Linked DNA regions of Homo sapiens. The protein of the gene in region 1 purifies or fractionates together with the protein of each later gene. This does not show direct contact. Each region holds a gene or a part of one and is shown on either strand. Other genes may lie near its edges.

The links. Proteins that work in one complex are often made in the same cells at the same time.
Region 2: the proteins of SLC6A7 (region 1) and PODXL2 purify together in Homo sapiens (affinity purification with mass spectrometry; one large-scale study listed by BioGRID and IntAct). This does not show direct contact.

The regions. Positions count from the first base shown.
Region 1 is NC_000005.10:150,188,603-150,192,861, reverse strand, and holds the start of SLC6A7 (sodium-dependent proline transporter), read right to left. Parts: upstream 2,801-4,259; 5' UTR 2,778-2,800; coding exon of another isoform or gene 2,535-2,777; coding exon 2,502-2,534; intron 1-2,501. UniProt on the Homo sapiens protein: Brain specific sodium (and chloride)-dependent proline transporter. Terminates the action of proline by its high affinity sodium-dependent reuptake into presynaptic terminals.
Region 2 is NC_000003.12:127,635,685-127,639,184, reverse strand, and holds part of PODXL2 (podocalyxin-like protein 2 precursor), read right to left. Parts: intron 1-3,500. UniProt on the Homo sapiens protein: Acts as a ligand for vascular selectins. Mediates rapid rolling of leukocytes over vascular surfaces through high affinity divalent cation-dependent interactions with E-, P- and L-selectins.

The DNA.
Region 1 (4,259 bases):
CTGAGACACCCCCCGCCCATCCCAGCACCATTCAGGCCAGTTAGCAGGAGGTCCCAGTAATGAGGATCCTCTGATCCCTCCAGAGAAGCTGCCCTTTCCATGCTCATGGAGCGGTCCCGGTTCTCTGTTTCCATGGTGACTAGAGTTCCAAGAGCAGGATGCTGCCAGCTCGTCCCCCTCCTCCCCCAATCAGAGGGAAGCCTGCTTCTGCTCCAGGGGCAGGAGATAGGGTCCTCCAAAGCTGAGCCAATCAGGAGCCCAACTGGAGTTCCCAACCCCACCATGGGGTGAATCCCAGGAGGCTGGCACAGTGAGGATGGGGCTGGTTGGGAGATGGAAGAAAGCAATCAAATAGCTGGGGCAGGGCTGGAAGCTGAATGAGTTGCTTCATACTTCTTCCTGGGTGTAAGCCTCCCACTCCTGAATCTCCCACTCCCTACCCCAGGGGCATGCAGGAACACACAGCTGAGTTTGTCAGACCTGCATGCTCGCCTTTAGGGACTCACAGCAGGGGCTGGGAGACTCAAGACTGCCCAAGCCAAGACTCTTCAGGACAGAGAGAGACAATAGGAATCTGGGGTCCAGCTTCATCATTGTGCAGATTAGGAAACCAAGTTTCAGGAAGAAGGGATGAGCCCAAGGTCAAACAGCAAGTTAAAGGCACAGCAAGACTTGGACCTAGATCCCCTGACTCTAAGTCCAGTGTTCATCTCTGAGCAATGCTGCTCCTTTGCGGAAATCTGGCATTTTCTCATTCCCGCCCAATTCTGCTTGAGAAAAGGGAAAGGACCCTGAGAGGAGGTAGCAACCTAGAACCAACCCTCTGCCCTGTTGGCTCTAGGTTGCCTAGCCTGCCAGCAGGTAAGCAGTGAGTCTCACCCCTCTGTGCCTCAGTTGCCTTATTTATAAAGTGGGGCTACTAAGACCTAGCCCCTGGAAGTGTTAAAGGATTAAATGAGATAAAGCTTGCTAACCCCCCAGCCCAGCACCCAGCAAGAGGGACAGGGCCTCTTGTGGGGAGGGAGGGCAGAGAGGGAAGAGAAGGAGAGTGGAAAAGAATGGAAACAGGACCCAAGAGACTCACAAATGGTCTCAAGAAGTCACTCATGTCAGTGAATAAAAAAGACATACCAGCTGGGCGCAGTGACTCACACCTGTAATCCCAGCACTTTGGGAGGCCGAGGCGGGCGGATCACGAGGTCAGAAGATCAAGACCATCCTGGCTAACACGGTGAAACCCCGTCTCTACTAAAAATACAAAACATTAGCCAGGCGTGGTGGCGGGCGCCTATAGTCCCAGCTACTCGGGAGGCTGAGGCAGGAGAATGGCGTGAACCCGGGAGGCAGAGCTTGCAGTGAGCCGAGATCACACCACTGCACTCCAACCTGGGTGACAGAGCGAGACTCCGTCTCAAAAAAAAAAAACAAGAAAAAGAAAAAAGACACACCACAGTGGTTCCAAGCCCAGCTGCCCCAGAGCAGAGAACTTGAATGAATGAGTGTGTGTGTGAGTGAGTGTGAGTGTGAATGTGTGTGTATGTAGGGAGGTTGATAACACCAGCCCCTGAGAACAGTCTTCTCACATCTACCAGCCCTTTAGCATTCTTCCCCACACCTCACACACCCAGTGGGGCCTGTTTTGGTGCCTCCAGGCTAGGGCTTAGCCAGAGGAGGTTCAGGTTAGAGAATGAACTTGTCCAAAGTCACCAGGCAAGTGGCAGCGGCAGAAATAGTATTCAGGAGATCTGACTCCTTAGTTAGGACTGGTACAAGCCAGAAAACGTCCCCCAGTATTCCCCCTCCCCATATCCTGACAGCTTGGCTGAGAGGTCCAATCCCACAAGGCAAGGTAGGGAGAGCCTGAGGTCTGGGCCCACAGCCACTCTCCCATACCAGCTTCCATCTTCATTGATCATATCCTCCTGCCTCCGATAGCCCCCTCCCTGTCTTTGCCTCCCTTCAGCCCTGCTGAGGGGCAGCCTGGGGTCTCAGCAGGCAAGCTAAGGGGGCGGGGAGGGAGCAGGCAGGAAAGAGGAGAGTCTTCCCGCAGGCTCAGGGAGCCGGCTTCAGTATGGATGACCGCCTCCCACTCCCCACCCCTCAGATGAGTCCAGCTCAACGCTCAGGTATTCCAATACCCCCCACACCCGGCAATCAGCTCCTGGCGGGGAGCAGCAGGGTGGAATTGGGGAAGAGGTGGGTGCCTGGCCCCGGCCGCCCCTACCCCGCGCCTCCGGGGACTGCAGACACCTGTTCATAGGCCTGGCCCAGTGAACCAGGACTCCCCTCATACTACATCCCGAACCCCAGATGGCAGGGGCAGAGGTGGGGGCGCAGACCGTGACCCTGACCCTCCCTGTTATCCAGCTGAGTCGGGCCTTCCCCAGAGCCCGAAGCTGGTCTGGGTGCATCCTCAGACCTTCCCCAGGGGCCTCGTTGGGGGCGGGTCTCTCCAACCCTCCTCCAGGTGCACCCCCAGCGCCCCCGCCCTCGTGCCCTACCTTGCGGAGGTGAGCTCCCTGGAGCTTCTTCATCTTGGAGAGCGGGTGGCCGGGGCTCAGCTGCCCCGGAGCGCAGAGAGCGAGGGCACGAGAGATGGTCCGCTGGCCACTGCGCCTTTGCCCCCGCGGCTCCCGCGCACCGGCTGGGGCGGGCACGGACGCAGGCGCTGCCGTCTGGCGGCTGCGGGCGTGGAGCGCGGGCAGGGCGCTGCGAATGCCTTGTCTGTCCCTGCGCAGCGCCCGAGGCTGGGGAAGGGTGCACTGCTGCGCCCGCATAGACACCCAGACAGACAGCTGACGGACGGACGGCGGGGGGATGCGCGCGCCCCCGCACGCAGAGCTGCGGATTGGAGAGCCCTGAGCGAGTGGGGAGGGGGGTTCGCGACGGAAACCCTCGGCTTTCTGCGTGACCTTGGGCAAGCGACCTGCCCTCTCTGGGACTCCCTTTCCACAGTTGGGCAAGGAACACTAACAGCCCACCCCCCTGCGTCGTCTTTGCTGTGCGACCTTAGGGGATAAGAATCTCTCCTCTCTTACAGGAGTGTGAGCAATTCAGGAAGATGGAGCATAGAAAACATCTAGCACAAAGAGCCTGACACATAGTAGGTGCTCAGTTAACATTTATTCACTGACTGTGGGTTGCCCACGCCACCATTAGTCCAATTATTCAATCTATCAGTATTTATTGAGCACCTAAAATGTGCCAGGTCCTGAACTAGGTGTCCTATTTTCTCAACCTGGAGAGACAGGTGTCGTTACTCCTATTCTACAGATGAGGAAGCTGAGGGACAGGGAAGTTAAGTTACTTACTCAAAGTCACGGGGCTAATGAGTGACACCAGGGACAGAGTCAGGCTTCATGGACCTTTAGGCTAGTAGAGTCTTCAACTCTCCTCCTTTCCTTAAGATGAAAGCAAAATGGGGAGGTTTGGGTGAGCAGAAGGGACAGGCAAGTGCCACAGTGTCACTGTGATCTGTGACTTAGATGATTAGTAACTGGTTTCCTGTCCAGCAGCAGTATGGCTTCTGGAAAGTTCTAATTTCATATCTGTAAAATGGGCCACGAGCCGCCCATGCATTGTTGCCTCAGAATGTTCTGAGGGTCCAGTGAGCCTGTGGCTAGGATGGGAAATGATGAGCTGGAGCAATGGCACACGTTGGTTTGCTGGGACTGACTGATAGACACTAGCGGATCAGTATATACATTACAAATTGTGTCCTTTTCACCCTCGCAAGTGTCCCAGTTTAGACATTAACCATACATCTGTTTGGCTCACTATCAGTTGACACGGTGGGAGGCCTTTGGGGAGAGATGAGAATAAGGTTCTGCTCTCTCCCACCTCTGGAGCTTGAAAAAAGGTTGGAGGGGTTTAAGTCAAAGCATGGACTTGGGTAAAGGCCTGGCCAGGCTCCAGTCCACCCCTTCCCCTGCCCAGGTCCTGTCAAACTTCTCTCCCCTTTGAGCCTGGCCACAAAGGGCAAACCAGGGGCTCTCCAGACCCAGGAGGAAGGTGTCTCCTCTGCCCCCTGCCTGCTGACCCATATGGGGCCAAGAGTGGCTGTGAGTGTGAAGAGAAGGAGCATTTATGGAGCCCTACTGTGTGCATTATGAAGGATTTTTGCATCCAACATCTAATTTTTAATTCTTTCCAACTGTCTGGGAAGACATGTTTGTGCATCTCATTTTACACCTGTGGAAACTGTCCCAGAGGAGTGAAGTCATGCACTGGGCGTTGGGGATGAAGCCAGGAAAGCTGTG
Region 2 (3,500 bases), on another chromosome or scaffold:
AGGTTAGAGCATGTCTCAAATGACAAAGGTCCTGGGGAAGGGGGGACTTCAGTGGACACTCCTGAAAACCCAGAGGCTTTGCGGGGATTCTGAGACACTATTTTCATTTCAAAAAGGCCAAATTGCTTAGACTTCCCTATGGCAGGGGCAAGGGGAGACAGATGGAGACAGGCAGGGGAGAGAGAGGAATCACTGAGTCAGTGTTCCACTGCGCATGTGGTCACTCAGAAAATGCCTCCTGAGTACCCTCTCTCTGTTGGCAATTGTACTGGGTGTTGGAGCTACAAACTGAAGTGAAGACAGGGCCCATGCTTTTAAGGACCTAGCAGTATGATTGGACGAACACAGTGTTCCCCAGGCTTCCATCCTTGGCTGAAATTTCTCCAAAACTGCATTATGAATATCATTTGTATTTCAGCAATACAGTATCCTGAACATAGTCTTTAGTTTTTTTATTTTTTATTTTTTTTGAGATGGAGTCTTGCTCTGTCGCCCAGGCTGGAGTACAGTGGTGCAATCTTGGCTCACTGCAATCTCCGCCTCCCAGGTTCAAGTGATTCTCCTGCCTCAGCCCCCCAAGTAGCTGGCATTACAGGTGCCCACCACCACGCCTGGCTAATTTTTGTATTTTTAGTACAGACAGGGTTTCGCCATGTTGGTCAGGCTGGTTTTGAACTCGTGACCTCAAGTGATCTGCCCTCCTAGGCCTCCCAAAGTGCTGGCATTACAGGCGTGCGCCACTGAGCCCAGCCTCTGAACGTAGTCTTTTAAAAAACCACGTGAGGTCACAGTTCAAACTCAACCCAGTGCTGGTAATTTGACATATTTGTTTAGAATCTTGGATTCTCTCTCTCTCCTAATTTACCAAAACAAGCAAATAAATGGACAGGAAAACAAATTAAAGGAGGCCTTTTTCCTCTTCTTTCACTCTCATTCTTTAAGGACAGGAATATAGCCCTATTTGCCAGTTTCACAACTTAACCTCTAACTTAATGACCTAACCACACAAATTACTAACTTGCTGTGAGGCTCCTGGAAAGCTGCTCAAGACCTCTGGGTCTCAGTCTCCTCACCAGATAGACAAGGAAGCTAAATGAAATGACCTCTGAATTCTTTTCCAAGACTAACACTTAAGGATCTAGGGAAGAGGGAATTTCACAGTCTTCCTCTTGCTCTACACCAGATGTGTACTGTGACCTGACTTGACTACAGTACATGGCAATTTTTAGTGATGCTTATAATAAAAATAGGGCTAATATTATTGGTGCCATGTGCTTTGCTGAGCAGGCCCTAAGCTTGATACGTGCCAATACTGTGACTGGCCACTGAAAAAAATGAGCATTTCAGACTGTCCTGTGAGTCTCCGTATGAGGGAGTCTGTGCACACTGTGCAGCAGCCAGACAACTCACAGCCAATAATGCCACATCCAGCCACAGGGGTGTATTCTGGGTTGTGTGGATGGGGGATGGGAAGTAGAGACTCCAGGGTAAGAGAGACGCCCTGAGGTCAGAGACAGGAAGATGTTCTATATAACAGGAGAGAAAGCCTGGTACCAGGAAATAGGTTACACTCTGGCTTCTCTGGCTGAGTGACTTCACCACCACCAGCCTTGCTCTCCTCCTCTGTGTAATAAGGACACCAATTCCTACCATGCCTCCAGTGTGAGGGGCACCAAATGAGGTAATTGGTGAGCCATGTGTGAAAGCTGCTCTACAAAGAGCTTTACAAACCAAACTATTCTACAAATATTGTGTTATTATCCTATATAAAAAACAGAGACCTGTGAAGTTCATGGCCCGGGGAAAAAAATATTTAAAAGAGACCATGGTATCTTCAAATACATTAAAACAAAAGGTTGATGTGAATAAGAATATCAGAGTGATTCTACATGGCCTCAAAGCCAACGCCGGGGCTAAGGAGGCATCAGAGCCTTAGCATCTGACCAGGGCTAGTAAACGTCTGTGCCAACCTCTAAGATCCCGTGAAGCTCTGTCTCTCAATAAGATAATTCACAGGCCCAACTCTCAGCTTTAGAAAGTATCATCATAACTAGAGGATGGGGCTGGGTGTGGTGGCTCACACCTGTAAATCCCAGCACTTTGGGAGGCCGAGGCGGGCGGATCACTTGAGGTCAAGAGGTCGAGACAGGCCTGGCCAATGTGGCAAAACTAGTCTCTCCTAAAACACAAAAACTAGCTGGGCATGGTGGCACACGCATGTAGTCTCCAGCTACTTGGTAGGCTAAGGCAGGAGAATTGCTTGAACCCGGGAGGCAGAGATTGCAGTGAACCAAGATGGTGCCATTGCACTCCAGCCTGGGCGACAGAGTGAGACTCTGTCTCAAAAAAATAAAAATAAAAAAATACCTAAAGGGTGGGCAAGCTGTGACCCTGGGCAGGTGGGAGCCAATGGCACTGCTGTGTTGCCAGTGCTCCTGAGGACTGCTCACAGGGGATTGCCTTCTGCCAAGTCCAAACCAGGAAGCTATCACACCCCATCCGGAATGTCTTCTGCTGTCCTAGGCACCATGTCCACGGACAAAGATTCTGCTTCCAGGCAGGGCCTGGCTCCACGAAGCTGAAGTCATGTTCCCAGAGCCTGTGTCTGAATCCCTGACTCAAAGAGAGAAACAGCCATCTCATATTTTGTGGTTTCTTTGAGCCAAAGGTATTTAAAAGGCAGAGAAAGCCAAGACAATCAATTTGGGGTCCACTCCCCTTGAAGTTCCCCTTTGTTCCTGGGAGAGGATGAATTAAGGACTTGTACTCTCTCTAGCTCAAGACTTTCCCATGACCTCTTCCACTCTAATTCCCCTTCACATCACGGGGGGACCCTAAGCTACTCTTGGATTTTTTCCTAGCCCGAATATTATAGAAGAAAGCAGTATCTATCCCCTACTAGGTAGATGGGAAAGAAACAGAGTGCCCTGTCCTACCCCAAAACAGTACCTTCTTAAGGTTCTTCCTGAGAGGGGTTATCCAATGACTCCCAATTAATAACACACATCTTTGCAATGAGACTTTGTAGCTCCTCCCATCAAGAGATGAAATCTAATTCTCCACTCCTTGAATCTGAGCTACCTTTGTGAGTTGCTACACAAGACAATGCAGAAGTGATGATGTGCCATTTCCAAGGCTAGGCATCAAGATACCTTGCACGCTTCCATTCTCTCAGGATTCTGCTCAAGGCTAGCCTGCAGGAAAACAGGAGCCCATGCAGAAGAGAGCCAGATCAGCTCAGTGTCCTAGCTGAAGTCCCAAAGTGAGAGAGCCAGACAAGACCAGCAAAGGTGATAAACAGCTGATGACAAACTTGAAGGAGTTCAGCTGAGACCAGAACCACCCAGCTGACTGCAGCCTAAATTGCCAAACTACAGAATCATGAGCTAAATAAATGGCTACCGTTTTAATCCAGTGCTTTCAAACTTGAACCAGCATGGAATCACCATGAGGGCTTGTTAAAACAGAGACTGTTAAGCCCACCCTAGAGTTCTGAATCC